4 separate regions of the Homo sapiens genome follow, and all the other regions are reported to be linked to region 4. The links are microRNA targets in miRTarBase. Many come from high-throughput screens and were not tested one by one. Region 4 holds a microRNA gene; each other region holds the end of a gene's coding sequence. Distances are from middle to middle.

Region 1 (7,866 bases), not on the chromosome of region 4:
GGTGGCGGCATGTCTGGCTAAAACTGGCCTTCAGAAAAAACAGCGCTGACTGCTGGGCAAGCCAGGGCCTAGGGAGGACAACACTCACTTGCCAGCACCCCCTGGGTGCCAGCCCACCAGTGAGCACTCCACTTATGGAGGCAGGAACCCCTTCCTGGAGGGTTCCTAGGATGTGTACTACCTTGCTTTGCCCATCTGCAGTCTTGCTGGGTAGGGGTGTCCTCCCTGGGCAGAGAAGTAGCAAGCTGTTCTTCAAACAAGGACTTATACCTGGCCAGGCACAGTGGTTCACGCCTGTAATCCCAGGACTTTGGGAGGCTGAGGCAGGTGGATCACTTGAGGCCAGGAGTTCGAGACCAGTCTGGGCAACATGGTGAAACCCCATCCTTACTAAAAATACAAAAATAAGCTGGGCGTCATGGCAGGCACCTGTAATCCCAGCTACTTGGGAGGCTGAGGCAGGAGAATTACTTGAACCCAGGAGGTGGAGGTTGCACTGAGCAAAAATGGCACGACTGCACTCCAGCCTGGGCGACAGAGCGAGACTCCATCTCAAAAAAAAAAAAAAAAAGCACTTACACCTAAGAGGTCAGTCTTAAGCAGATGGTAAAATGAACAAAGGAACTCTCCTTGTATTAGGAAAGAATCATTGGCCCACAATGACAGATTCTGGCACACTGGTGGCTTCCTCACTACCTAAAATCAGCTCCGAGACCTCTTGCTTGGCATTCAAGACCTCAAACTACCTCCCACTATTCCCTGAAAAGCTCCAAATCTGTACCATTCACTTCACCTCAAACTTAACTTATATTGTTAATTAACTATTTCACACAAGTATGTTTTTTTTTTTTTTTTTTTGAGATGGAGTTTCGCTCTTGTTGTCCAGGCTGGAGCGCAATGGTGCGATCTCAGCTCACCACAACCTCCACTTCCCGAGTTAAAGCGATTCTCCTGCCTCAGGCTCCCAAGTAGCTGGGATTACAGTCGCATGCCACCACACCTGGCTAATTTTTTAATATTTTTAGTAGAGACGGGGTTTCTCCATGTTGGTCAGGCTGGTCTCGAACTCCTAACCTCAGGTAATCCACCCGCCTCAGCCTCCCAAAGTGCTGGGATTACAGGCATGAGCCACCATGCTCGGCCATGTTTTGTCTTTCTGACTGTAAGTTCTGGAGGGCAGAGGCCTCATCTTCTATGTCTTTGACATTATCCTGAGCCTCTGACACAGTGCTGGGCAGAAAGTGGGCAACTCGATACATTATACTGTGTGTTAAATTCCAAGGCCAAGCATATACCCCCATGTCTATCATATCAACAAAAAAGATCTCTCAGAGTGCTTGCTTTCTTTTAAATGCCATGTTTTGGCCGGGCACAGTGACTTACACCTGTAATCCCAGCACTTTGGGAAACCAAGCCAGTACGATCACTTGAGCCCAGCCTGGGCAACATAGTTAGACTCTATAGGATCACTTGAGCCCAGCCTGGGCAACACAGTCAGACCCTATCTCTCTCTCTCTATATATATATATATATACATACATATAGTTTTTTTCTTTTTTTTTTTTTTTTTTTTTGATACAGGGTCTCGCTCTGTTGCCCAGGCTGGAGTGCAGTGGTGTGATCTCAGCTCACTACAGCCTCCACTTCCTGGGCTCAAGCCATCCTCCCACCTCAGCCTCCCACATAGCTGGGACCACAGGCACACAGCACCACACCCAGCCAAGTTTTGTATTTTTTGTAGAGATGGTGTTTTGCCATGTTACCCAGACTGGTCTCAAACTCCTGAGCTCAAGTGATCTGCCTAGCTTGGCCTCCCAAAATGCTGGGATTACAGGCGTGAGCCACCTCGCCCAGCCCATCTCTGTTATTTAAAAAATAAAAATAAAAAAATAGCTGGGCACAGTGGCTCATGCCTATAGTCCCAGGCCAGGGTGGCTGGCCTGTTATCCCAGCACTTTGGGAGCTCAAGGCAGGCGGATCACCTGAGGTCAGGAGATTTGAGACCAGCCTGGCCAACATGGTGAAACCTCGTCTCTACTAAAAATACAAAAATGAGCCGGGCGTGGTGGTAGGCACCTGTAATCCCAGCTACTCAGGAGGCTGAGGCAGGAGAATCACTTGAACCTGGGAGGCAGAGGCTGCGTGAGACAAGATCGCGCCACTGCACTCCAGCCTGGGCGGCAGAGTGAGACTGTGTCTCAAAAAAAAGCCATGTTTTAGCAACAGGGTATCTGACAAAACTTGTCTCTGCTTTCTCGGGATCTGATTTTAGCCTGTTTGTGGGACTTTCCAAAGTATTCCAAACATCAGGAACACACCCTGACAGAGAGAGGGGAGGACTCCTCAGAACAGAGTGTGGACCCAGCAGCACTGTCCAGCTGCCCTTGGCCCTGTGGTTTCTCTTTGGCCCAGGGCCCTATCCTCAATGACTGTGTGACAACCTCTCAGTCTCTGTGTGGAGAAAAGTGCTTGTGGTTTAGGATCTTGAGGTGCAATTTCCTGAAGACTGAGGAAGAAGAAGAGGGAACAAAGTGCAGCAAGAAAGAGCAGTAGCATTTTTGGGATCAATTTTTATTTGGGCTTCTCACAGTGGTTAGAGCCACTCTGTCTTCAGAACAATCACAGCACAGGAAATGCGTCACTGAGACTGCCCAGAAAAGTCTGACCAGCTGAATCTTATTGCTTAAAATACACATATTCACAATAACTGACAAAGGGTAACGTGCCTCACACAGGAATGTGTTCGCATTTGCAAATCTTCTGACTGGCTGTAGCACCAAACCCTCCACCGACCCCGTCTCATTCACGTGGAAAGCCAGCCTCAGTCACATCTCCCTGGCCCCCTAACGATTCCTTCAGCTCCCTATTAAATCTCTCTCTGAGCAGGGCAGCATCCTGTAGCGGGGGCCAAACTGTGACCTGGGAACCAAGCCCAGCTCCGCAGGTTGCATTTCCGTCTTCTCGTGCCTTTAGGATAGGACGCTGCAGTGAGTCCCACAGTTAACACTTGCCCAGTTCCCCACTCTAACTGGGGAAAGGAACTTGAGAGGCTCAGAACTCATCCATTTGATCTGTTAACTGAAAAAGGATTCATTTTGGTAAAACTTGTTCGCCTTTGAGACACTTCAGTGAGTTATTTGGGATTCTTAAAAAATAAAAAAAGGTGGAAGGAAAGGCATCTGAGGGGCTGTGACACACTCCGGCTACCTCTGGCCACACGCCAGCTTGCTTGTGCCTGTTGGACTCACCAGAGGCAGGCAGGCCCTGCGGCTCCTCTAGAGCCTGCAAAGCCTCCTCCTGGCAATTCTGGGCAGGGCCGATGTCTGGGCCACAGCTAGTCCAAGCCTGTCATTGAAGACCCAGTCAAGCTTCTGTCTGAAATTCCACCTTCTTCTGTCCCAAGTGGTTGTGGACACCCCCGGGCGCTGGTACTGAGGACCAGCAGCAGCCGAGGGAGGCAGACAGGCTCAGAGCACGCTTCCATTTATAGGGAACAGAACGCAGGCCTCCGAGTGTCCACGGAGCAATGTGCAAATCGCAGTGATGAGTAGAGTAAAACCTCTACTTCGAGCACAGTATCTCTGGCAAACACAGGGGACTGCAGTCGACAATGCTGCGGAGTACACCCGAGTACACAGTCAGACATTTGTTCGGTAAACAGTAAATGCGTAAGATCAATGACCTTGAGAGGCCTGTCTGTGCTCCAGACGTGTGGTTCACGTGGAGAGAATGGCTGCCACTCAAAGTATCTTCACAGGAAAACAGGGCTTGAGGCACACACACAACAGACAGACACACACGGCTCACCCAAAAAGTCACTGTGTACGGACTTAACTTTGTTCAACATGGATTTTGGTTTTGTGGAATCTAAATGCAGACACTCGTTTACCTCACACCCTTGGATTTGTCTGTTTTTGGACATATATATATATATTTTGTTTGTTTCTTTCTTTCTTCCATAACATCAATGCTTCGTCTGAATATCATCATCGTTCAAGAGTTGGGGGAAGAAAGACTTCATATGCACAGGGCCGGGTGGGGAATGTTTGTTTTGGCTGTTTGCTGCCTCCATTCAGATTTTCCTATCGCAGCTCAGCTGGTGACCTGAAGGCGAGCAACAGGCACAAGGGTCCCCAGGGCCTTCCGGATGGCTGCTTTCACCTCCTGCCTGGGCCACCGAGTCTCTACACAGAAAAATGAGTCACCCGACTCAAAAGGGGTGGGGGTAGAGGCAGGGACAAGGCATGAAAACCACAGATAACCAAGGTGTTTCTTCCAAGTGGTCAGTTTAAAACAAACAACTGCCACCAAAAAAAAAAAAAAAACCCCACAAAAAATATTTATTCAGAATCAAAGATAAAATACTGTGTGAGAGCCAGGCTACAGGGGCCCTTTCTCTGGGGCCATCGCTTCCTCAGTCCGCTGTCTGTTTCCTCATACGGAACAGTGAGACTTGAAGGCCCGCAGGGTGTGTGCTTGCGATGCAGGCTGACACGGGTCACCTGTGAACACAGACCAAAGGGCAGAGAGGCAGAGAGCTGCACCTCTATCCACTGCTGCGGCTTAGGGCCTCCTGCTCACAGAGGTTCCAAGACAGCCGCCACCCCAGCCTTCACACGAGACATCTTCTGGCTCAACAGCAGGCAGGCTCTTTGAAGGCCAACTTGGGAAAGAGCCACAAACGTCATTTTCCAGAAGAGAATTCTTGCCTGCCCACCGGTGAAGTTCTTGTTTTCAGCTGTCTTTTGCTGTTTGTTTTTAGAGAAAAAAACAAACAAACAAAGAAAAGGCAGTATAACCTTTCACACCAGAACCAGCCTGCGGCCAGCCAGAGCCTGCGGGGAAGAGGCCCCTCAAGGACGCATGGGGTGCATAGATCTTGTCACCTGGAATTTGACAGATCAACAAGCCCCTACCAACCTATCATACAACGGCCCAGTAGCTCTCATCCTCCCACAGGATTAGCTCAATGCTGGCTTGGCAGACACTGGCAGCCCAATGACAAGCCCTGGGCCTCTGTGGGTTTCCTTCTTCATCCAGGGCCAAGATGGGCTGCCTCTCCTGGACTGAGATACAGCAACGTTCTCTTAAACTAGAATCAGAGCACAAACCTATTCCATCACCAAGAATCATGTCAGGGCACAGTCCCAGCCTCCTTCCTTGGGGGCTTTTAAAACACATCTCTCTGACCCAAACAGGTAGGTGAGATTTGACTTTAAAGAAAGGAGATGGAGTTAGGGTATGAGGAATGAGTCACAGAACCAACTTAGCCCTCCACAACACTGTGCCCTTGTGGAGGAAGAGGCATCCACACCCCGAACTGTACCTGGAGATGGAGGAAAATGCAGGAGAGGAGAAGGAAAACAAACAAAAAGGAACCAAGTGGCTGTACTCTGAAAGTCTTTGAAAGTCACTTAATGCTTCTCTCGTGGTTCTCCCCTACCCTGGTTGCTTTGCCAAGTTGCTGGGTGCTGGCAGGACCTGCTCTAGCTGGGGGAGCTGCTGCTCTGGGAGTTGGGAGAGTCCTGCTCGTTGATGGTGTTCAGCAGCAGGCATGCGGGCGGCCGTGGCAGGTGCGGGTGCCCAGGCTCTCGAGCCTGCTCCTCAGAGGACTGACAGAGGCCTTCCTCCTCATCACCAGGGGGCCGCACATGGCAGCTGTCGCAGAAGTCCAGGGGCCCATCCAGAGCATCATCGATGAGTGTGTTGAACTCTTTGAGGTCATCGTCATGGTGGCCCCGGTTGCACACACACACTTCAATGCCCGAGTCACCTGTGAAGCGGCGATGTCTCCCAGGCGTCTTCTCTTTGCTGTCGGGTGCGCCGTGTTCAGAGCTGTCATCTTTCAGCAGCTCCTCCCTACATTCTGCATCTTTGTCCAGGAAGGCCCCCGGGTCCAGCTCCCCCAGGCCAGCCACAGAGCCACTGGGCTCCATCCCTGGGGCTTTGGTGGCTGCTCGGTCAACTGGTAGGTCAGAGGGATCAGGGTCAGCGATGCTTGGGGGTCTTGTGCTGCTTCTGCTGGGCTCAGACAAGGGGCTGCTCTGTGCCCCCTGGGATCCCCTGGTGGGATCGATGCCCGGGGGACTGCCACCTGCAGGGCCACACTGTGGAGGCAGCAGCTGCTGCTGCTGTAGCTGGAAGGCACTGTATGGTGGGGGAGGAGTTGGAGGTCGGTTCACCACTTCCTCATAAGGAGGTAGTAAATAGTTTGGCAAAAACCCTAAAATGGGGAGGTAGGAAGGAGAAATTACTGCACTGGTCATTGTTCTAGGCAGACTGCAAAGCTCCCACTGAATATTTGCATTGTCTCTTCCCACCCCAGAGCACCCAACAAGTGATGGCTACAGCTCTTGGTTGTGAGCAGAGGAGAGACAGCTGCGAGCAATTCTGCAGAGAGAGAGGGGCAGTTTGGGAAGGGCCTAACCTAGCTTCTTGAAATCTGAGAGCCCCTAAAGCTGCTTCGTAGGCAAGGACTTCACGCCTGTTGGGAGTTAAGGCAGAGAATTAGGCAAACGTGGTAGATGGCCAAAAAATAACTTCTGCCTGGAATGGACCCACTTCCACATGCACACAAGTCTCATGTTCTTGCTTAGAGTGTGTCCTTCATCCAAGTCCCACAGGCCTCAGGGCCAGGGTCCCTAACTTCAGACTTCTTAACTACTTTTCTTCCTCCTAACCTTCCAAATGCACTATGTAGGGTCTTTTGCTAGGGGGTTAGAAATCTCTGTTGTCTCTACTGTGGCTGGAGGTGGTCTGGAAACACAAACCAAGCTTCACCTTGACTCAGATCAGGAGCAGATGGGTGACCGGCAAAGGGTAAGGGGCCTCTGCCATCCAAGGCTTATTAAAAACATGCTAGGTGAGTTATCTTTTGAATGTGCTGAATGCCTTATGACACAGATAATTTAATTATAATATAACATTACTAACATTTATTGAGCACTTACTATATGCCAGGCACTGTGCTAAGCACTTAACCCCTCTAGATGTGGAACTGAAATAATGGTGGGTCACAGTGGCTTACGCCTGTAATCTCAGCACTGTGGGAAGCCGAGGCGGGCAGATCACTTGAGCTCAGGAGTTTGAGAACAGCCTGACCAACATGGTAAAACCCCATCTCTACTAAAAATACAAACATTAGCTAGGTGTGATGGCATGGTCTTGTAGTCCCAGCTACTTGGGAAGCTCAGGCACAAGAATCACTTGAACCCCAGAGGAGGAGGTTGCAGTGAGCCAAGATCACGCCACTGCAGTCAAGCCTGGGTGACAGAGCGAGATTCTGTCTTAAAAAGAAAAAAAGAAACAATTGTAAAGAAACAATTGTGAAAGTTTATTTTGTAGAATACACTGTAGACTGGCTTTGGAAAACTGGCACAGCTGGGCCTCCACTGACCATATGAGAGGTCACATGTAAGGAGCCCCAGGGAAGTCCGGGAAGTGCTCTTCAGAGAGTCACTAAGTTTCTTGGTGCTCAGAAGTCCCAATGCCACCCCCCAACCCGCCCCTTTCATGGCAGCCTCTGCTCAGGCATATCACACAGAAATAAGCAAAATGGGAGGAATTCAGGCCAATGAACCCCAAGTCTCAATTCACTCACGTTATAACTGACTCCTGACCTCAAATGATCTGCCCGCCTCGGCCTCCCAAAGTGCTGAGCCACCGAGCCCGGTGTGAGCCACTGAGCCCGGCCCACAATTGTTTCAATTCCACATCTAGAAGGACTAGGTGCTTAGCACAGTACCTGGCATATAGTAAGTGCTCAATAAATGTTAATAATTATTGTTCTATTATCTGACTATCTGCCATTAAAGAGAGAGAGAGAGATGGATGAATGAAGGGAGGGAGGGAAGAAGGAAGGGAAAG
Region 2 (7,866 bases), not on the chromosome of region 4:
TCTTTCTCATCCAGCCTCACCCTTCTCCTCACAGGCCTCCAGGAAGACATTACCATACTCACAAATCTCTCTCTGTTATTCCAAAATCTTAAATCAACAAGGACAAATATCAATACAAAAAACCTCTCTAAGGCACGGTTTTACACAGTCTACAAGCCTGGCAATGCCTCAGAAAAAAATACAGATTCCTGGACTCCCTCCTGGGAGATTCGATTCCCTAGACTTGGAAGTGATTCCCTGGATCTGTATGTGTGAAAAGCGTTCAGTGGGAGAAACTCTGAGCAGTAGCCGGATTCGGTTCAAAATCACTTCTCTGCCCTAACACACCTAAGGCCTGTATTCAGCTCATGATAACTGGCTCGGGATAGCAGGGCTTGACAAGGGAGAAGACACACCCTGCTAGGGCTGGCTGCTGTGTCACTTTAGAGCTGCACTGTCCAGTATAGCCATTAGCCACCGATAGTGATTTCTTTTTTTTTTTTTTTTTTTTTTGAGACAGAGTCTCGCTCTGTCGCCCAGACTGGAGTGCAGTGGCGCGATCTCGGCTCACTGCAAGCTCCGCCTCCCGGGTTCATGCCATTCTCCCGCCTCAGCCTCCTGAGTAGCTGGGACTACAGGCGCCCGCCACCACGCCCGGCTAATTTTTTGAATTTTTAGTAGAGACGGGGTTTCACCGTGTTAGCCAGGATGGTCTCGATCTCCTGACCTCATGATCCGCCCGCCTCGGCCTCCCAAAGTGCTAGGATTACAGGCGTGAGCCACCGCACCCGGGCTTTTTTTTTTTTTTTTTGAGACAGAGTCTCGCTCTGTCACCCAGGCTAGAGTGCAGTGGCACGTCTTTGGCTCACTGCATCCTCCACCTCCCGGGTTCAAGTGATTCTTCTACCTCAGCCTCCTGAGTGGCTGGGACTACAGGTCCCTGGGACTACCCGCCACCAGGCCCGGGTAATTTTTGTATTTTTAGTAAAGGCAGGGTTTCACCATGTTGATCAGGTTGGTCTCGAACTCTTGACCTCAAATGATCCACCCACTTCAGCCTCCCAAAGTGCTGGGATTACACACGTGAGCCACCGCACCCAGTCGTGTTTTTTTGTTTTTTTTGAGACACAGTCTCACCCTGTCATGCAGGCTGTAATGTGGTGGCATGGTCACGGCTTACTGCAGCCTCAAACTTCTTGGCTCAGCCTCCCAGGTAGCTGGGACCACAGGAGTGTGCCGTGTCCAGCTAGTTTTTAAAATTATTTGTAGAGACAAGGTTTCCCTGTGTTGCCTGGGCTGGTCTCAAACACCTAGGCTTATGCAATCCCAGAGTGCTGGGATTACAGGCGTGAGCCACCATGGCCAGCCAGGACATGGCCTTTTTAAGGACCGAAAGAATCTACCGTGACCCCAAACAGAGAGTGATAGGACGAGCGTTTCCCTAGATCATGGCCCTGTAGGTGTGACAGAGAGCTTGTGCCACAACCCTCTGGGAGTCCAGGAATCCGTTGTCCGGGCTAGGTTCTCAGCCCTGACGTTGTGCCCTTCCTCCCGCACCCCTAGGTCGTCCACACTGGTGAGAAACCCTACTGCTGCCTGGTCTGCGAGCTCCGCTTCTCCTCACGCTCCAGCCTGGGCCGCCACCTCAAGCGCCAGCACCGTGGGGTTCTCCCCTCTCCCCTGCAGCCCGGCCCTGGCCTGCCCGCCTTGAGTGCGCCCTGCTCCGTCTGCTGCAATGTGGGGCCCTGCTCGGTGTGCGGGGGCTCAGGGGCCGGCGGCGGAGAGGGCCCCGAGGGGGCAGGCGCGGGTCTGGGCAGCTGGGGGCTGGCAGAGGCGGCAGCTGCGGCCGCGGCCTCCTTGCCCCCATTTGCGTGCGGCGCCTGCGCGCGGCGCTTCGACCACGGCCGCGAGCTGGCGGCCCACTGGGCGGCGCACACCGACGTGAAGCCCTTCAAGTGCCCGCGCTGCGAGCGCGACTTCAACGCGCCCGCGCTGCTGGAGCGGCACAAGCTGACGCACGACCTGCAGGGCCCGGGCGCGCCCCCAGCGCAGGCCTGGGCCGCGGGGCCAGGCGCAGGGCCCGAGACGGCGGGCGAAGGCACCGCTGCGGAGGCGGGCGACGCTCCTCTGGCTTCGGACCGCAGGCTGCTCCTGGGCCCCGCGGGGGGCGGCGTGCCCAAGCTCGGGGGGCTGCTCCCCGAGGGCGGTGGGGAGGCGCCTGCACCTGCGGCGGCCGCCGAGCCCTCGGAAGACACCCTGTACCAGTGCGACTGCGGGACCTTCTTTGCGTCGGCCGCGGCCCTGGCCAGTCACCTGGAGGCCCACTCGGGCCCGGCCACCTACGGCTGCGGCCACTGCGGGGCTCTGTACGCGGCGCTGGCCGCCTTGGAGGAGCACCGGCGGGTCAGCCACGGTGAGGGCGGCGGGGAGGAGGCGGCGACCGCCGCCCGGGAAAGGGAACCGGCGTCCGGGGAACCCCCGTCTGGCTCCGGCCGCGGCAAGAAGATCTTCGGCTGCTCCGAGTGCGAGAAGCTGTTCCGCTCACCGCGAGACCTGGAGCGGCACGTGCTGGTGCACACTGGCGAGAAGCCGTTCCCGTGCCTGGAGTGCGGCAAGTTCTTCCGCCACGAGTGCTACCTCAAGCGCCACCGGCTGCTGCACGGCACCGAGCGGCCCTTCCCTTGCCACATCTGCGGCAAGGGCTTCATCACGCTCAGCAACCTCTCCAGGCACCTGAAGCTGCACCGGGGCATGGACTGACTGCCAGGCTGCGTGCGCCCTGCCCTCCACCCAGCCTCCTGGACTCGGCCTGGACCAGGGGACCTCGGGACTGCGCGTGAGGCCCCGGCCCTCCAAATCCAAATCCAGACGCAGGCCCTGAAATGAGGGGACCCTGACTGGAGAGGTGGGGGCCACCAAAAACCCACAAAGGCCCCGGAGCTGGGGGACCACAAACAAACAGGGTCCTTAGCTGGGGCAGGGGAGCCCAAATCTAGGGAGAGACTCCTGAGCCTGAGGTCCCTGGAATGAGTGTGGGTAGCCGTAAGTCCCCAAGACATGGGGACTTTGCAGTGAGCAATGGGTCTCCACAAGTACCTCTCATCTTGAGAGCCCTAATACTAAAAGATGGGCACCCACCCCCACCAAGGGAAGACTGCCCCATTCCCTGAGAGCCATCATTCCTAACGACCTTGATCTGGAGAATGTGGAGGGAGCATGTCCCTGAATTTTCCTAGATCCCTCCAAATGCCACCCACCAGAGTCACTGGTGACCCCAGAAAATGGATATAGCCGAAATCTGCCTTTCCCCTTTTTCATTCCCTGTGCTGAAAGAGGGACCAGGGTAGATGCCCCCTGCCCTCGAATCCCCCCTCCCCGACTGTGGAATGGATCGACCCTAACGATCTTCCCCGCCCCAAACACTAGAATAGACTGGCCTGAAATCCCCTTGCCCAGTAGAATGGACTGATCTATGTGCACACACCCCCATCACATGGAATGGGCTGGTCTAGGCTGTGGCCTGCCACCTTCCTTAGAGTGAATAGGGCGGACACTCCTCTCTTTTCCTGTAGCGTGTGGACCGGTCCACGCAATTCTTTATCCTGTGAACTCATCTGAGTGGGAGGTGGTGGACACTGGGGTTTCCTTCCCTCTCTCCGTAGCATCCGTTGGTCTTTCTCTCCATCTCTGTTGGTTTGTCTGTCTCTGTCTTCCTCCCAATCCCTAGGGGAAGGGGGCATTTGGCTAGGGGGTGCCCCTGTGAGCCTCGACCTTGCCCCCTCGTCCCTCTCCCCAGTGTTTCCAGGACCCCCAATAAACCTTGTCCTGTCAGTCGCTGATGCCTCATTTTCTGATCCTTGGCTCCAGGCGGGGGGGATGGGGAATCTCTTAGGACAGACTCCCTAAATAGAGACGGGTCCTCGTTTTCTCCTGAGAAGTTTCAAAGCTTTGAATAGTACATGCCCTTTTAAATTAGAGTCGGTTTAGGCTGGGCTTGGTGGCTCACGCTTGTAATCCCAGCACTTGGGGAGGCCGAGGCAGATAACCTGAGGTCAGGAGTTCAAGACCGTGCCTGGCCAACATGGGGAAACCCTGTTTCTACTAAAAATACAAAAATTAGCCGGGTGTGATGGCACATGCCTGTAATCCCAGCTACTCGGGAGGCTGAGGCAGGAGGATCTCTTGAACCTGGGAGGTGGAGGTTGCAGTGAGCCGATATTGCACCACTGCACTCCAGCCTGAGCAACAGAGCGAGACTCTGTTTCATAAATAAATACAATTAGAGTCAGTATCAATCAAAATGAGTTCCGTCCCTTAAATACATGATCCACCTCCAACAGACGGACACGCCCCCTAGAAACTAGACACGCCCTTTAGAAGTCACCAATCTTATAGGACACACCCCTTGGAAACCAAACTGCCTCATTAGAGGCGTGTCTGAGCAGAGGCCCCGCCTCTTAGATGCTGCCTTGGACCCTATACCAGACCCCCAGAATAGGACCCGCTCATCAGAGAATTGGGGGTGGGGGTGCCTTCAGACTGTCTCCTGCACACTGCATTGTGTTCCCGTACTGAAGGCTTATTCTGAGCCAGGCGTTGGAACTCCCTGTGGGGATCATCCCGGCCCTCCTGGGGTTTATGTTCTGTCGTGTAGGCGACGGGTATGGAGAAAAGAGGAATCAAGTAAATGTAGAAAATAATTTCAGATCGTCCTGAGCATTCTGAAGGCAATAGGGAAGGGTGGTAAGAAAATGAATGGCCACCTTACTCACTTTTTATGCCACCTTAGATGGGGTGGTCCATGTGGGCTTCTCGGCGGAGGTGGCGTTTGATCTGAGCCCTGAAGGGTAAGGGTGAGCAAGGACCTGCCAGGAGGATGCCCAAATGGACACAGGAGGAAAGTGAGCTCAGGGAGGGAAGGATGAGATGAGGTTAACAGGTGGGTAGACGTCACATCACAGTAAGCCAGGCAAGCCAAAACAGGTGTTTGACTGTGTTCTCTGGGTGATGGGAAGCAAAGTGTTAATCGAGGAGGGAAGGGACCACCCTTGCATCTTACCAAGATCCCTGTGGCTGCTGAGTGTAAACGAAGCTGCAGGACGCAGAGTCAGGAGAGTGCAGCGCTCCTGCAGTCCAGGAGAAACTTGTGGGAGCCTAAACCAGAGTGACCAACAGAAATCACGCCTGTAACCCCAGCACTTTGGGAGGTCGAGGCGGGAGAATCACTTGAGCTCAGGAGTTTGAGACCAGCCTAGGCAACATAGTGGGACCCTGTCTGTACTAAACATAATAAAATAAAACAAAACAAAGAAATGGGTGGGTTGGAGATGAACTCTGGAGTACGAATGCAGAGGACTGGTTGTGTGCATGTGTGTATTGGTTGGGGGTGAGTGTAATGGGAAGGGAGAAATCAGGAATAAATGGTTGAGTGGTGGCATTTCTTACTAAGACCAGAAAACTGAGGGAGGACACATTTAAGTAGGAGTTTAGGAGAATCAAAGTTTCCTCCCCTTTAGTTCCTTAAGATTTTTTTGTTTGTTTTTGAGATAGGGGCTCACTCTGTTGCCCAGACTGGAGTGCAATAGTGTGATCTCGGCTCACAGCAAACTCCACCTCCTGGGTTCAAGTGATTCTCATGCCTTAGCCTCCCAAGTAGCTGGGATTACAGATGTGCACCACTACACCTAGCTAATTTTTGTATTTTTAGTAGAGACGGGCTTTCACCATGTTGGTCAGATTGGTCTCGAACTCCTGACCTCAGGTGATCGATCTGCCCGCCTCGGCCTCCCAAAGTGCTGGGATTACAGGTGTGAGCCACTGCACCCTGCTGAGTTTCTTAAATTAAATGCCCCACAGGTTGCCATTCTCAAATATTGAACATACATATATCCTGTGATGCAGGAATTCTACTGCTAGGCGTAAATGCTAACTCAAGTCCCCCTGCACCCAGAGACATACAAAAACATTCATAGCAGCAATACTTTCAACCCCAAACTCAGGACAACCAAAACGCCCATCAGCAATACAGTGGATAATTAGCGATGGCATATTATGCAGTGGAATACTATACGGCAACAAGAATGAATGAGCTGCAGATAAACACAGTATCATGAATGAAAGTTACAAAGATACAGGACCCAAAAAGCCAGAAACAGAGCATGATTTCATTTACATAACATTGAGGCCAGGTGCAGTGGCTCACGCCTATAGTCCCAGCACTTTGGAAGGCCAAGGCAGGAGGATTGCTTGAGTCCAGGAGTTCGAGATCAGCCTGGGCAACATGGCAAGACCCCGTCTCGAGTAAAAATACAAAAAATAGCCAGGTGTGGTGGCGTGTGCCTGTAGGCCCAGCTACTCGGGGGGCTGAGACAGGAGGATCGCTGGAGCCTGGGGTAGGGGGACGGAGGTTGCAGTGAGCTAAGATCATTCCACTGCATTCCAGCCTGGCCAACAGAGGGAGACCCTGTCTCCAAAAAAAAAAAAAAAAAAAAAGCAAACCCATTATAATGCACATAAAACTAAACTGTAATATTGTTAAGGATACATTGTCAGTAGTAAACCATATAAAAAAGCAAGGACAACAATGTCCTATAAAACTCAGAATAGTGGACTGGACAAGTTAAGCGGGAGGGGATATCCTGGAAGTTTCCACGGTTGCTGATAGCCGACAAAGTTCTAGTTCTTAATCGGACGATCATTTTATAATTATTTATTCAATTGTGTGTTTGTATTGTGCATTTTTTCTCTGTGTGTCTTATATTTCACAAAGAAGATATTTTAGGCTGGGCGAGTTGACTCATGTCTGTAATCCCAGCAATTTCAGAGGCTGAGGCAGGAGGATGGCTTGAGCTCAGGAGTTCGAGACCAGCCTAGGCAACATAGTGAGATCCTGTCTCTACCAAAAACAAAACAAACAAACAAACAAAAAACCGGCATGGTGGTGCACGCCTGTAGTCCCAGTTACTTGGGAGGCTGAGCTGAGAGGATCACTTGAGCTCAGGAGGTCGAGGTTGCAGTGAGCTATGATCGCACCACTGCACTCCAGCCTGGGCGACAGAGTGCGACCCCGTCTCAAAAATAAAAAATAATTCCGAACGTGTTGGCTCACGCCTGTAATCCCAGCACTTTTGGAGGCTGAGGCAGGCGGATCACTTGAGTTCAGGACCACCCTGGGCAATATGGTGAAATGCCGTCTCTACTAAAAATACGAAAATTAGCTGGGCATGGTGGTGCACGCCTGTAATCCCAGCTACTCGAGAGACTGAGGCGGGAGAATCGCTTGAACCTAGAAGGCAGAGGTTGCAGTGACCCAAGAACATGCCACTGCACTCCAGCCCGGGTGACAGAGCGAGACGTCCGTCTGAAAAAATAAATTAATTAATTAAAATTTAAAATATAAATTAAAAAAGAAAGAAAAAGAAAGGAAAATTTAAAGGAGGAAGACATATTCTGGGAGGAGAAAACAAGTAAGAGTTTAGCACTCAAGGGAGACTTTTTGAATGGAGATCCACTGTTGCCTGTTTGAAAAAGCTCAACCTTTGGGAATAAAATCAGCTAAATCTTAGAGATATTCCTCTCCACTCTGCAACCGCCACTCAAAAACCAGACATGCTTTCTGGTTTGAGAAAAAAAGTATCTTCTTTCGAGAAACAAGGCCCGCCCACTTCGAAGCAGGCACCGCCCCCAGGGACAAGACCCGCCCACTCCGAGACCGGCTTAGAGACAGGCTGAGCCCCGGAGCTGCGCACTGGAAAGGCGCCAGCGTTGCCATGGAGATGGCCGCCGGCCAGGGAGTAATGAATAGGGACCTCGCGAGGCTGAGGTTCCCACCCACCTCACCTGCACCACAGTCCTTTCTCTTCTGGGGCGGTAACGAGAAGGACCCAT
Region 3 (7,819 bases), 66 Mb from region 4:
CTGTAAATAATCTGGCCCACACTAGCTGCTTAATTTGGTATAATTTCCATAATACCTACAATCTGTAACATTCATTTTGACTTAATAAGAATAGCTAATCTTCATGGAGCTAGTACTATGTGCCAAGCTGTGTTCTGCTTTACATTATTACCATATTTAATCCTCACAGCAATCCTAGGAGTAGCTCTATTTTCTCCATTTTAAAGATAAGAAAACTGAGGCCAAGAGAAATTAACTTTCCCAAGGCTATAACTAGTAAATGGGAATTAGGATTTAAAGCAGTCTGACTTCAGGACCCATGCTATTAATCACCATGTTAAACTACACCCCCATAAGAAAGAAAATATATCATGTGTCAGGAGACACAGGGTAAGTAGATAGATCTCAACTTAAACTAAGTTCCATAGTGATAAAGTAAAAATGACTTGCATCTACAGCAAAGGAGACATTATCCAGGAAAAAGAAAACTGTATACTGTTTTGGGTACATTTTGCTTATAGAAATAGCATAGAAGATAATTTTAATTTCCTATGTGTGTTATGATATGGCTCAAGCAAGAACATATGTTTCTGCAACCTATTTGAATTTGTGGATTTAACTTGCTCAAGAATATTTTAAAAATCTTACTTAAAAAAGAATGAAGTTGGTAAAAATTAAAAGCAAATATGTTTAGTACTTTGATTTTTACTTACTGCTTTTCAAGTTCCCTAAGTCAAGTGTCTAATTTTGTTTTTAATTAAATGCACTACAGATAAAATCCTGAACAAAAATTCTTCTAGACATCTGGACAAGTTCCGCCTATCCAAATTCTGCCTGCCTAATCCTGCATTTTGGAAGAAAGTCTCAAAGTTTCCAACTACATTACAATAAACTGATGTCCTAAGGGTATCTCTGTTGGTCAGTGTAAATCAAATCACTCACAGAAGATGAGAATACATCTTTACTTTCATAACCAATCGATCAATAAAGAAAATGCTGGCCAGGCACGGTGGCCTCACGCCTATAATCCCAGCACTTTGGGAGGCCAAGGCGGGTGGATCACAAGGTCAGGAGATTGAGACCATCCTGGCTAACACGGTGAAACCCCGTCTCTACTAAAAATACAAAAAATTAGCCAGGCGTGGTGGCGGGCGCCTGTAGTCCCAGCTACTTGGGAGGCTGAGGCAGGAGAATGGCGTGAACCCGAGAGGTGGAGGTTGCAGTGAGACGAGATCGCGCCACTGCACTCCAGCCTAGGCAACAGAGGGAGACTCCGTCTCAAAAAAAAAAAAAAGTTAACGCCCTGAATGTTATAGTTTATATCAAATTTCTCAAAGGCCCCAAGGACCAGTGTTCAACATTTGCTGGCTCAGGCTGGTTAACAGTAAATATTTAAGGAGCACCTACTAGGTACCAGGGACCATGCATATCCACCTGTTATACAGACAGTCGCAGTCTAGAACTACAATTTGAACTCGCATCTTCTGAAAGTTCAGGTATACAAACCGGAACCTTAAGCTCCAATACATAACTTTCCCTTTATAGTATATTCAAAAAAGCTATTACCAGAGCTTCTGCAATCTACAACCAACCAAATATGTTCACACGAAGAGACTAACAGGGGCACTTAGAATGTACAAAATAAGTCTTGGGTTACAGTGTACATTCTGTTCTCTGGAGCTTTATACCATGAAAATTTAGCATTTCCCCTAAAGTGACTCCTTTTCCTCAAAAATCAATTGTTTTAAAAAGTAAATTTCTATTGCTTGTAAGGGTTTCTGTAGAAACCCCTACTCCTACTTATTCTTCTCTAATGGAAATACTACCCTAGAAAATATTGGAAAATAATGGAAATACTACCCTAGAAAATCTTCACTAATAATGAAGAAATGTGGCTTGATTTATTAGTAAGCTAATGCCAGTATTCTTTGTATGATTTACTGAGCCTCTCAAAAATTTTGAAACTCATGTTGAGTAAAATACATCCGACTGTGTTTAAAAAAAGCCAATTAAAACGACTATCAAATAACATAAACAGTAATTCCTGAAGTCAATGGTTTTGCTTTGAAGAGGCCAAAAAGGATAAAACAGCCACCAGAAGTCTACCATAGTCTTTACAGTGAATATGTCCAACTCTGTAACTTATCCTAAGGTAACTATTCCAACTACACATCATCTATAGCAACTATTCAGCATCCTCCAATGTGTAATCTCTTGTTCACTAGATCTTCTGCTACAAACCTCAAAGAAATCATTCTTTAAATTTCTTCAGCTCACACCATTTCCCATCCTTTTGTAAAAACAGAAGAAGACGTTATAAAACTTTGAAAATAAAAATGATAGGAAACGGTGGAAAAGTAGAGATGGCCTCTGCACCCAAGCTCTTTTCCTTTATACCTGATAACTTGTCATTTATCTCACCTACCTATCTTCATGTTCCTGGATAATCCAGGGTTCTTCCAACAGTTCAAATGGCTCTCTTACTAACAAATGTCAACGTCCTTATGTGACCATTCTGTTCCAGTCTCTGTACCATCCATTCAAGCCTGCTAGCTTTATCCTGCCAAAGAACCACGACGCTCCAAACTCACAAACCATTATACAAGCCCAACATATACTCTATGCCGTTCTCGTTACCAACACGCTCCAACCCAACGTAAAACCTTCCTAGTATCAACTCTTCCTTTATGAGCTTTTCCCATATTCCTACTCCCTCAACATCTACCGGCCCATACTCCCAAGTCTCTCTGCTAAACGCAATTCTAGCCCGGAGTCACACCCTCTACAGCCTAATTCCCGCAACCCCAAAACCCCACCCCCCTCATCACGCCCTCTGGGGCCTCAGCTAGGAACCCCAACACCCCGCCCCACGCCCGGCACGCCCTCCAGATCCCTTTAGGGTCCTTTCCGTCGGCCCGACCAGACCCCGTTCAGGCCTTCCAAGCGCCTAGGCTCTCCCGACCACCACTCAGTCCCCGCCTCCAGCCCCTCACCGAGTAGCAGCAGCTTCACTTCTTTGGCCGCTTTTTCCCCGTCCTCCCGTAAGTTGCGGTCGATCATCTTGCTTCGCTCCACTGCCGCCTTGTCTTCGGCGCTCAACGTGCAGCCCATGGCGGCGGCGGGAGAGGGGACACGGGCCCGGACTCACTCACACCACGGAAACTGCGGCTCGGCAGGCTGAGGCACCGTCTATTGCTGGGCGGTGGCCCTCTCCGTCAGCTCCCTTAGCGCCCAGAAGAACCGGATATCCGACGTTTACGACACTTCCGGCGACGCCCCGCAGCCTTCACCGTTTAAACCACTCTCCTCAGGGAGAGGAGTTGAGACCGAAAGCGGAAGTCACGGGGAGCTGGCGGCTGGGTTGGGCGGCGGATCTGCAGAGTTTCGAGGTTCTGTCAAGTTCGCTGCCCGCCGCCCAACTTGAAGCCTCATTTACCTTTCGGCTACCTGATTTGGATAAATGGAGAAAAACCGGGGCCTCTAACTCATAATGCCCTCCCGCGTTCAAGATGCCAGTTTTGGGGCGGAGATTTCTAAATTAAAGCCTACATCCCGCGCGGGAATATCTGCTGGTAATTTCTCGCCTGCCAGAAAACTCCTTTGATCTCTGGCTGTGGAGACTCGGGACCCCTACCCAAGTATGGGACACTGCCTCCGTTGGGGTTATCTCAGATCAATGGAATGGGAACAAGCTATCCGGCCTGGGCGCCGTTCACGTCTCACATCTGAGATCGTAACACCGACTGTGCTTAGGACCTCAGCAATAACTTTTTGCCGTCTCTGGCCCACTGACTCCTCTCAAAATGTCCCCTGGTCCTTTTGCTATTCACGTATTTCTGTGGGCTTGAGATTTGCTTAACTCCTATATTGGCAAAAGGCCACTTGAAATCGCTAGCAGATACTCGATAACCTGAAAGGTAAGCCTGTAGTTCCTCCATAAAATTTCCATGCTGCCCTTCTCTCCAGTATAATTCAGATCTTCCTACCTTAGGGTCTTAGAACTAAAACCAAGATAAGTCAACTTCAATTCCACACCCCGAAACAAACCAGTGCATCCTGTGAATCTCCTACTAAAATTTCCTGTTGCGATAACATGCAAAAGGAGAGGTTCTAGTAAAATTTGCCTCTCAGCCCTAGTATCACCTGAAACTTAAGTCCACTGTGAAAGTCCCAGGCAGATAGCATCTTTCACTAATAACCCTGGATACTGCGTGAAGGTAGTCCTAAATCAACTTTTCAGGCAAATAAGCCCACAATTACTATACGTTCTAGCGAAGGGAACTCAGTCCCTAAAACCTTTCCCTGTGATTGTAAATTTATTTCTCTAATAGAATCTGAACTTGAGAAAGTAAGGTCCCAACAGAGAGGTTTATATAGTGATGATTCATTAATTAGAAGGATTTAATTAGAGGATTAGAGCCACCTTAAAAAGCCTCGTCCACCTTAACTCTTAGCAATGCCAATTCTTCAAGGTTTGAAAAGTCCCCCAGTCATTCCCAAATGACTGTTAAGAATGAAAGGGACTGCTTTTCCATTATCAATACTTTTGGGGAAAAAGGGCAAGAGGAAAGGGAAGTAAAACCAGTATTTATTGAGTACCTATTTGCCAGATACGGCTAGGTGCTCCCACATCCCATCTCTTAATCCTCACAACAACCCTGTGAGGTAGGTAATAATGATCCCCATTTTTACAGGTGAGGAAGTAGGCTCAGAGAAATTAAGCAGCTTTCCCAACTTCACACAGTGAGTAAGTACATCTATCTGACCCCAGAGTTACCCTTTTCTATCATGCCCCCGTAGGATATTGCCTGGGGACACCTGACAACAGAAAGTCTAAGGTTTTCATCTAGGATTGGGAGTTACCCCAACACCAGCAGGATGCAGGAAAAAGTAACTGACCGGATGGTTGCCTCAATCTGTTGATTCTTCAGTGAGTTAGCTCAGATTTTGTCCAGGAACAGCTTTCAGAGCCAAAGATTACGTATTGAACTTTACCAAGGCATCTGGTGACTAGAAAACTCCTGGAAGGTGGTCATAGCAGAAATTGTTGGGAAAGTTCTCAGCATAATAAAAGAGAAATTTTTATTTCCTTCATGATCCACTCCTACAGGGAAAAATAAATGGCAAATGAACCCATGTATGTCAAACTCTGTAATAAACACCAGTGAGATCACAGTGTCAGGAAATTTCAGCCTGAATTAAAGATACCCTTGCTCTTAAAACTTTCTTCTTTGATGTATGTGAAGGAAGGGCTGGAGGGCAAAGTCAAAGGAAAAGGCAAAATAAATTAACAAAATGGCTGCCAGGCAATGTTTAATGCCCTCCCCTTCCTCCTCCCACCACGTACACTCGCCTTTCCTCCTTCCATTGGGCTCACACTGCCACCTGCTGGCAATTCCTTGGATCTAATAGCTGATCAGTGGTGTTTGAAAGAAGAGTTTTTTCCCTGTCTAGGAATGATTGATTCCTCTGTATGCATTTATTTTAATAGGGAGGAGAGGTGAACATGTTTTTCAATCACAAAGGACTCTCCTCCCTATATATACTATGTTTTTAGGGAACTTCCACAATGTAATAGGCACTAGACTGGTATAATAATCTAGTGGTAGGAAGACAACCTAGAAATTTTCCTAGAACAAAGGGGGAAAGCTGTTTGCCCAGTTTCATTTAATTTTTTTTCTTCATTAGAGAGTTTCATTTACAACCCCTATGCTTTCCACAATCTGCAGGAAGCTTCAAGGTATGCATCTTGCTGCCACGGGCTGAACTCTCAGAAGTTAGAGCCATGGACATATTCTCCAATATATTTCTCAAGCACATTCTGTAGTGCTTTATCAAATCAAAGTGCTTTGTGAAAATATAAGGTATCTCATCAACTTAGACTATGAACTCCTTAAAAGCAATGACCACACGCCCTGTGTGGGTCCCAGGGACTAGTGGGTGTTCAACTATTATGCACTGAATTGAACTAAAGGAGTCAATGTTGTTATCAGTATAACCTTTTATCATAAAAATTATTTATTAGCTGCTTAAATGGGAGACTATCCCACTCCCACCAGCCCATTTCCCCTTTTGATGCTCAGTGAGCCAGGAATTTGTTCAAATAGAGACCACACCACCCTCTGGCCCTGCCTTGATCCGTTAGTGTTACCTGATTCAATTGAGGGAAGTAGGATGGACAGGTGGTCCCAGATGGGTGTCCTGTCCAGTTTGCAGTTATTCCCTGTTTGTTGAAAATACCACCACCAATACCAACCAACACAGTTCCTACAGTCTCAATCAATGAACAGCCAAGACCAACTCCCGTGCCCTCTCTCCAACCCAGTGCTGCAGATAGGAGAGAGATTTAAGTCTTTGTCACTGAAGCTAATTTTGAGAGCGATGAATGGGAGTAGGAAGGCATTTAATGGATCATGGAAACCCCACCCTTCCCATGCCCAACCTTAAGTCTCTTGTACCCGATTGTCCAGGGGACTGGAGGTGGGTCGCTGCCATGAGGAGAGAGATCAGGGAGGCCAGTCCTGGAAAGAAAAGATTCGCAGTATTATTGATCAGGCTGATTACCTGGCCTCTCTGTTTCCAGCTACTTTACCAATTCAAATGCTAACCTCCACCCTCGCCCGTCTGACCCCCAGTCATTCTAATTCTTCCTCCTAAAAGAGAGGAAAGCCATCCTGCCTTATTCTTGTCTCTGCTAAGATCAGGCTCTACCCTTGATCTCCTGTGTGCAGGAGAGAGACAGAAAAATAGAACAGAAGGGCTTTTCCTGAAGGGTGGGAGAGAGAGAGCTGCAGTCAGCTTTCCTATCTTCTACTCCATGTACCCTAATTTCTATTTTGCCTTGTTTCTGGCCAAACTCAGTAAAGGAATACACCCTACTGGTCCTCTCATTTTAAGGAAATCTCAGGTATAAAACCAGAAAAATGATCTATTAACTCAAGTGGAAACACTTGGCTATAATTTAGTTCTTTTTAAACCTAGCAAGGAAATGAGAAAACATGGGTCATTTTCTTACCTTGCTTGGGTGCAATTACTGCCCTGGACAATTACACTGAAAAATAAAATATCCTAAATGGCCCCTAGAATAACTCCAAACCTGGCCTGCTGCCCTGTATCCTCCAACTCCTACCCTTAGAGAATTCCCTGCTTCTGGAAGCATGGAAATTTCACCAATTGAGAGGTTTCACCTCACCTTTGTGACCCTTTTCTCTCGTCACCGTCTCACCATACCCAGGTTCCCTCCCCTAGCAGTCAAAGATCACAGCCAAGTCCAAGGCTTTTGCACACGTTCATCCTGTTGGCTCTGTTCCTGACCCAGGAAACACTAAGCAAAAGCTGTGTGCAGAGACCCCAGCCTCAGCCCTAGCCAGCTGGGAAAAGGTGATCCCACAAGGTGGTCCTTGCAATCATAACTGGCCCCAGCCCCATATCCCTCCGAGTGTCCAGCGGCCCATCATGACTCCAGCCGGGGTGAGGCGGCAGGACGGAGGTAGCTGTCTGACATGATGATGTCGCTGGTGAGTTGCTGCTCCAGGAACTCAGAGGTCTCCTCAGCTATCTGGCCTGGGATTCGAAAGTCAACAGCAGGTGGCTCCTGCTTGGGGCTGGGTAGGGGTCGGGAAACCCAGGACTCAGAAGGACAGCCAGTCCCCTGAAGGAACTGCAGGAAGTTCTCCTCAATGGAGCCCTCCCGGCTAGGCAGCCTCAGCTCCTCCTCTGGAGCTGGCTTGAAGAAGCAGACAAACTGCTTGCTGAGCTCCCCCCGGATCTGCCGGTTGAGACATCCATAGAAGAAAGGGTTGGAAGTGAAGCAAAAGTAGCCAATCCAGGTGACCACACT
Region 4 (7,291 bases):
CTGCTCAGTGAGCCCTCCCCAGCCTCCCTATCTACAACTTCTTACTCCCCCAACGGCTTCACTTTCCATGCTTTGTTTGTTCTTATTAGCATCTATCACTATCTAGCATGTAGACTGTACTTCTTTTTATTTTGTTTGTCACTCTCCCCTCTTAGAATGGAAGCACTGTGAGGACAGCATTTTATGTGCATATGTGCGTGTCTATTTTGTGCCTGGAACACAGGGGGTACTTAATACATTTTTGTTGAGTGAACAAATGAATATGTTGAGCCTCATCATGACTCTGAGCTGAACAAGCTGAGCATCATCTGCATCTTACAGATGAGGAGACTGAGGCTCTGTGAGCCTATAAAATGGGGAGCCAGATCAAAGCCAGGTCTCCCAATGTCATGACCTTTATATTTTTCCCTTCACCGGTAATACCCTTAGACTTGGTCAGTGGAGATCCTCCCTTGGGCCTCAAATTTTAGAGCATCCCGGAGTCTTTCTCTGGCTGTACCCCTTACCATTAAGTGGGATACAGTGGCTGCCTGGAGTTTGTCCTGCCTCTTCTAGATCACGTTGCAGGTACCCAGGACTCTGGAGTTCCCTGCTCAGATAGTCTTGAGCCTGCTGACAAGACCAACATTGGGGGTTTCTTCCCAGGCTGTCTCTACTCAACCTGGGCCTGAAGGATGGGCACAGGGTGGTTGCTTATAGAATATATGGGTAGAATTTGAACATATGGGCTGCAAGGATCCACCCACATGTGTACAAGGCCCCTGGTGATATAAGATGGAGTTAGGAGCAGAAGAGAAGTGATACAGTAAGAAGTGTAAGAATATGAGCACAATAACTGAAAGTAAAATCTCAATGGATACATTAAACATTAAGTTAGATGCAGCAGAAAAGAGAAGCAATGAACTACGAGATACATCTAAAGTAATTATCTAGAATGCAACACAGAGAGAGTAAGGTATAAAAAATCCAAATAAGAGTTCAAAAAAAAAAAAACCCAAAAACATGAACGTCAGGTGTGGTGGCTTGCACCTGTAATCCCAGCTACTTGGGAGGCTGAGGTGGGAGGATGAGTTGAGTTCAGGAGTTCAAGACCAGCCTCAGCAACATAGCCAGACCCCATCTCCATAAAAACAATTAGCTGGTCAAGGTGGTGCATGCCTGTATTCCCAGCTATTCAGGAGGTTAAGGTGGGGAGGATGGCTTGAGCCCAGGAGTTTGAGACTGCTGTGAGCTATGATTGTGCCAGTGCACTCCAGCCTGGGCAACAGAGTGAGACCTGGTTTCTTAAAAAATAAATAAATAAAATAAAATAAAATAAAAAACTGGAAGGATGGAGTTGAGATGGTTTGGAGTTCCAGAAGGAGATAACAGAACAAAAAAGATACCTGTCCTTAGATCCAGGAATCTCAAATAATCCCTAGGAGGATAAAAAATGAAAATAAAAACTATACTGATGTGTGTGTCTGTATCTATATGTATGTATATATACTATGTATATATACATGTACATATAGTATATGGTGTGTGTATATATGGTGTGTATTTTATACGTATATATGTATATGGTGTATGTGTATAGATACATACACACACACACCATAGACAGAGAAGATATTAAACATCCAGAAAAAAAGATCATCTACAGAAAGACGATGCTGATAGCTAATTTCTTAACCACAGCAACAAAAGAGAAGCCAAAAAAACACAATGGAATATGATCTATAATATGCTGATAAAAATTTCACACCTGTTGAAACTATCTTTCAGAAATGAGGATAAAATAAAGTCATTTTCAGACAAAAACTGGGAGAATTTATTAATACATTATCAGTAAATGCAGAAGGAAAATGATCCCAGCTGGAATATCTGATTTGTAAAGAGTAATGGTGGGAAAAAGTTTGGTAAGTATGAGAGCAAATATAAATTAATGTTGTCTGTAGAAAACCATAATTTAATTTATATTGGAAAGTCATATGATCTTTTTTATTTTTGTTTTTGAGACAGGGTCTGGCTTGGTTTCCCAGGCTGGAGTGCAGTGGTGCGATCTTGGCTCACCACAACCTCTGCCTCCCGGGTTCAAGCAATTCTCCTGCTTCAGCCTCCCGAGTAGCTGGGACTACAGGCACGTGCCACCACGCCCAGCTGATTTTTGTATTTTTAGTAGAGACGGGGTTTCACTATGTTGGCGAGGATGGTCTTGATCTCTTGACCTCGTGATCTGCCCACCTTGGCCTCCCAAAGTGCTGGAATTACAGGCATGAGCCACCACACCTGGCCAGATGTCCATTTTTATTGCCCCTAATCAACACTGTCTGGAGGTGCTTACCAGCACAGGTAACACAAGAAAAAGGAAGAAAGTCATCGTTATTTGTAGATAACATGATAGTCTATGTAGAAGTCTCTGCATAATCTATAGACAAATCATTAGAATTAATAATAATTTAGCAAATATGCTGGAAATAAACATCAATAAATTAAAGTCAACTGTATTTAATACAGCTTATTCCAACAGAATATTATGTGGTTGATAAATTTGACTTTATTAAAACTAATAATTTTTGTCCATCAAAAGATACTTGTAAGATGGGAGAAAAATGCCCCAAACTGAAAGAAATTATTTGCAAGACATATATATATATCTGACAAATTATTGATATACAGAATATATAAATTGTGCATGTAAATCAATAAAATTGCCCAAAAATATCCTGCACAACAAACTGTAAAAAACAAGTAAAAGACTTGAACAAGGCATTTAACATACGACTAAATAGGAATAGCCCATAAACAGATACTCATCATCATTAATGATAGCAAAATGCAAACGAAAACCACAATTCCTTTTCTCAACCATTGGGTTAGCAAAAAATTACGAAGTTGGACAATACCAAGGGTTGGCAGGGTTGCTGAGGAATAAGAACTCTTATGCACTTCTAGTGGGAGTGTAAATTGGTACTATCATATTGCTCAGTAATTTTAGTCCTGGCTGTGTGCCCTAGAGAATCTGCACAAATAGATGAATGTATATGCATGCAAGAATGTTTATAGTAGTATAGTTTGTAATAGCAAATGATTGTTATTTCCCAAATGTCCCTCAATATTAGAGTGAATACATATATTTGAGACATTATATTCATATGATGGAACACTACATAGCAATAAAATGAACTTGGCTATATGTATCGAGATGTGTGAATCTCAAAAGCATGACATTGAACTGATGCAGCAAGACACAGAATACAGGGAGAAGCACTAGAACTGGTAATATTCTGTTTCCTATGCTGGGTGGCTGGGTTCACAGATCTACATTCTATTGTAATTCTTTAAATATGACATATATGTAGGGTACATTCTTTTGTATGTATATGTCACAATAAAAGGTGTCAATGCAACAAAGAATGGGAAAATGGATTCGGTTGTTGAAATAATGAATATCATTAACAGGACCACTGTGAACAAAAATAAGGGCTGTAATGCTATACAAATGGTTATTTGCGACTTGGGATAAAGTTTACAGTGTCTTCATCATACTTGGATTCAAACGGTGATATAATGAAGGTGGTGTGCTCAGGAAAACTGTTAGACAACTCAAAAAGTGGCTCTGGTGATGACAAAGGCAGTGATATTGAAGACACCAAAAGAGGGGTTCTTAACATATTTTCATGAAATTACAGTGAAAAAAGTACTTTTAAATTAACATTTTATATGTGATTTTAACTACATATGCGTGACTGATTAATCTAGTTTCATAATACAAGTCGCCATTTATTTCCTCTACATTTATAATACTGCATATATATTCAAATTGGCCAAAATCTTTCTTTCCAATCATCATGCTGGGATTATGGGGTTATATGTGGCACATACCATTCCTGTATATGTCAGGATGGAAAAAGTTTTACCTGGAATGAATTTTTGCCATTTCTGATCCACATTGTACTTCACACAGTGATTTCCTGAAGGAAATATAATGATCTGTTCATCGAAGTAGAAGATATTGTTGGCCACGTGGGATCGAAGACCAAAAACATGCAGCGTCTGAGCTACCACGGCTGACATGATCTCCCGCCAAACAGTTCTGCTGAAGACCAAGGCAGCGCTTCAGAGTGGAGAGCACCGCCCCGCTCCGACCCCGCCCCCGGCCCGGACTCGCCCTCCCCGCCCTTTGCTCCTCCCCTTGTCTCTCCCCTTTCTCCTCCCCTTGTCCCTCCCCTTTCCCCTCCCCTTGTCCCTCCCCTTTCCCCTCCCCCGGGGTCCTCCTCCGCGCCACCCCACCCCCGCGGCTCCTTTTTCTGCCTTTTCCTTTGTACCCTCACTGCTACCAGCTCCTTCTGGCGACCCCCAGGTACCCCCTCCCACCTTTCGTTTCTCTCTGGGTCAGCAGACCACGCATGTATCCAGAGGCGCTACCTGTAGGGATCCTAAGCAACCCGGACACTTTCAAACGCCGTAGCGGTTCCTATAGCAACGACAAACCGGAAGTATGGTTTGCCGCCGGAAGCGGAAGTCCCAATCAAAAGTTGAGCAGTAGCTGTGAGTTGCTGGCGCTGGAGCGATTCGGTGGCACGTGGAGCCACGGCGTGGGAGTAGGGGGCTGAAGGCAGGCAGCAGCGGCCAGGGCCGCCCTCTGCTAGCCGCTTGGGTCTCGGGATACCCCGTTTCTTCCTGTAGGTGTGGGACGTGCGTGCGGCGAGATGGACACTCCCCCGCTCTCGGATTCGGAGTCGGAATCCGATGAATCCCTTGTCACAGACAGAGAGGTAGGTGTCAGCCGAGCTCGTGGGGCTGGGCGTGGGAGAGGGGGCCTTACACCCCTGGGAGTGACCGTGATTGTGTCCTGCAGTTGCAGGATGCGTTTTCCCGAGGGCTTCTGAAGCCAGGCCTCAATGTCGTGCTAGAGGGGCCGAAGAAGGCCGTGAACGACGTGGTGAGCGTGGGCACAGGGTCGGGGGTACTCGGACATGGGATGCGCTTCAGGCGCTGTTGGGCTTGGGAGACCGATTCTTGTCCCAGGAAAGATGCACCCTGCGCCTCGCCAAGAGGGTCAATTACCTGTCTGGGTATTGGGGATTAGCACTTTGTCCCTTCGCCTAACAGCCTGTGCTTGGGAAAGACAAACTCAGAGTTCCCTTCTTGTGAGCTCAGTGTCTGGATTTCCTAGAATGGCCTGAAGCAATGTTTGGCAGAATTCAAGCGGGATCTGGAATGGGTTGAAAGGCTCGATGTGACACTGGGTCCGGTACCGGAGATCGGTGGATCTGAGGCGCCAGCACCTCAGAACAAGGACCAGAAAGCTGTTGATCCAGAAGACGACTTCCAGCGAGAGATGAGTTTGTATGTTTGTTTTCAAATGTTGGAGAAGTTGAGGATCCTTGTGCAGGAGAGTGGGAAAGAGGGGAAATTAGTAAGTCTGCACTCAGAATAAGCCTAGGAGTAGAGAGAGCGGCTTCTTTTGACTAAGAATAGCTAGGAGATTCTTCCTGTTTGAGAGAAGAGCTCTTTGGTCCACGGTCACGATCCAAAATCCACTTTATGGGCTAATTTGAAATATTCATGTTAAAACTTTTTGTGCATGCTTCAGTTATTAGGAAAACAAACAAACAAACATTGCTTATGGGATGTTCTTGTGTGGAATTGCTTTAGTAATTACATAAGAATCCATAATCGACATTCGTTTGTGTTAATGGGTACCTTTAGAGTAGTCATTCTCTTAAACTATTTTTAGCAACACCCCTCCCCTTTTTAAAAACTAGTATACGGCTACATTTCTTTTAGATACTAAATCAGTGAGACAGTTTTTGTTTGTTTGTTCTTGCTAATGGAGGTCAGATTTTGAGAGTCCTTCTGAGCTTGGATAACTCATGATTGGCGGTGAAAAGGAACGTAAGGCCTCCTCCTTCACCTCATTACACATTTTGTCCTACGATTCTCAGCTATCGCCAAGCCCAGGCCGCAGTGCTTGCAGTCTTACCCCGCCTCCATCAGCTCAAAGTCCCTACGAAGCGACCCACTGATTATTTTGCGGAAATGGCCAAATCTGATCTGCAGATGCAGAAGGTAAGAAATAGAAGTTTTCCTCTGGAAAGTCAAAACTTTGTACTTAAGCATATTCAGCTGGCTTAGAAAGATAGCTATGAGCCCAATAACGGGGAGCCAGTTGTCAGAGGACAATTATTACCTCTTCCATAGATTGGCTACTTCAGAGTCATGCCAGTTACCACCAATTAGATGCATATAAAAATGACATTTTTTCTAAAATCAGCAATTAAGGAGAGGAACAGTGCTGTGTGAAGTGTGGTCCCCGAGGTGAAGATGGCCCAGTGCATTTCCTAGCTGGCATGGTCATGACATGGTGTGCAGAGAGGACAGCATTCTTGTGCCCTTGCCACTGTCAGTGCTAGAACTTGTAGACAATTACTTTTCTCTGGGCCTCAGTTTTCTCCTCTGTAAAATGAGGGATTCTTAGATGGTTCAGATATAGTACAATTTAGAGTTGGGTAGAACTTGGACCTCATTTAACTTTGGAAGAAGGGATTGCCAGCATGTAATCCAACATACATTCAGCCCTCCATAGCCATGGGTTCAGCATCTGTGGATTCAACCAACCTTGGATCAAAAATATTGGGGAAAAAAATTTGAAAATATTGCAAAAGGAAAACTGAATTTTCCGTGTGCCGAGAACTACATTGAATCCATGAGAATGAGGTGATGCATAGCATTGTATTCGGTATTATAAGTAATCTAGAGACTATTTAAAGAAGCGGTCTGGCACTAGAGACTAGTTTCGTGGATGACAATTTTTTCATGAACTTGGGGAGGGGATAGTTTTGGGATGAAACCGTTCCATCTCAGATCATCAGGCATTAGATTCTCATAAGGAGCAGGCAACCTAGATCCTTTGCATGCATAGTTCCATGCATAGTTCACAGTAGAGTTCGCACTCCTATGAGAATTTAACGCCACCACCAATCTGACAGGAGGTGGAGCTCAGGTGGTAATGCTTGCTTGCCTGTCACTCACTTTCTGCTGTGCGGCCTGGTTCCTAACAGGCCACAGATTCATAGTGGGTTCGTAGCGGTCTGTGGCCTGGGAGTTGAGGTCCTCTGACTTTAAAGGATACTGGAGGCGAGTGTAGGTTATATGCAAATGCTGCACCATTTTTATATAAAGGACTTGAGCATCTGTGGATTTTGATATCTGTAGTGGGTCCTAGAACTAATCCTCTATGGATACTGAGGGATAAGTATATTTAAATAGTACCCTGGGGTCTCAAGCTGGATTTTAGGGAGCT

What was found. Region 4 holds the annotated microRNA hsa-miR-6733-5p (UGGGAAAGACAAACUCAGAGUU, at 5,106-5,127, shown strand). A microRNA usually pairs through its seed, bases 2 to 8, with sites in the 3' UTR of a target mRNA and lowers its output. Matches are read on the target gene's strand: a 7mer-m8 pairs with bases 2 to 8, a 7mer-A1 pairs with bases 2 to 7 and ends in A, and an 8mer does both.
Region 1: the mRNA of WBP1L is a reported target of hsa-miR-6733-5p. Seed matches in the 3' UTR shown: 8mer at 4,666-4,673 and 7mer-m8 at 3,032-3,038.
Region 2: the mRNA of FIZ1 is a reported target of hsa-miR-6733-5p. Seed matches in the 3' UTR shown: 7mer-m8 at 3,282-3,288.
Region 3: the mRNA of GPR61 is a reported target of hsa-miR-6733-5p. Seed matches in the 3' UTR shown: 7mer-A1 at 7,351-7,357, 7mer-m8 at 5,622-5,628 and 8mer at 5,028-5,035.

The regions. Positions count from the first base shown.
Region 1 is chr10:102,810,952-102,818,817 of GRCh38, reverse strand. It overlaps WBP1L (WW domain binding protein 1 like), which reads right to left. Exons shown (of 4, transcript NM_001083913.2): 4 at 2,556-6,223. The coding sequence ends at 5,487. Among named protein-coding and RNA genes, the nearest start is that of CYP17A1-AS1, 18 kb to the left of the region's middle. RefSeq lists an enhancer at 2,865-3,398.
Region 2 is chr19:55,587,323-55,595,188 of GRCh38, reverse strand. FIZ1 (FLT3 interacting zinc finger 1) reads left to right here. Exons shown (of 3, transcript NM_032836.3): 3 at 1,543-3,813. The coding sequence ends at 2,739. Among named protein-coding and RNA genes, the nearest start is that of FIZ1, 8.3 kb to the left of the region's middle. RefSeq lists a silencer at 7,778-7,827.
Region 3 is chr1:109,543,992-109,551,810 of GRCh38, reverse strand. GPR61 (G protein-coupled receptor 61) reads right to left here. Exons shown (of 2, transcript NM_001393907.1): 2 at 4,551-7,819. The coding sequence ends at 7,433. It overlaps GNAI3 (G protein subunit alpha i3), which reads right to left and starts at 3,196. Exons shown (of 9, transcript NM_006496.4): 1 at 2,973-3,196. The coding sequence starts at 3,090. RefSeq lists enhancers at 2,910-3,079, 3,610-3,669, 7,582-7,819 and a silencer at 5,184-5,420.
Region 4 is chr1:43,169,522-43,176,812 of GRCh38, reverse strand. MIR6733 (microRNA 6733) reads left to right here and starts at 5,101; the gene lies at 5,101-5,161. It overlaps EBNA1BP2 (EBNA1 binding protein 2), which reads left to right and starts at 4,523. Exons shown (of 9, transcript NM_006824.3): 1 at 4,523-4,760; 2 at 4,844-4,927; 3 at 5,162-5,334; 4 at 5,934-6,057. The coding sequence starts at 4,695. It overlaps CFAP57 (cilia and flagella associated protein 57), which reads right to left and starts at 4,483. Exons shown (of 23, transcript NM_001378189.1): 1 at 4,360-4,483; 2 at 3,903-4,078. The coding sequence starts at 4,059. RefSeq lists a silencer at 4,057-4,256 and enhancers at 4,367-4,416, 4,497-4,626, 4,176-4,811, 4,757-4,986, 4,812-5,448.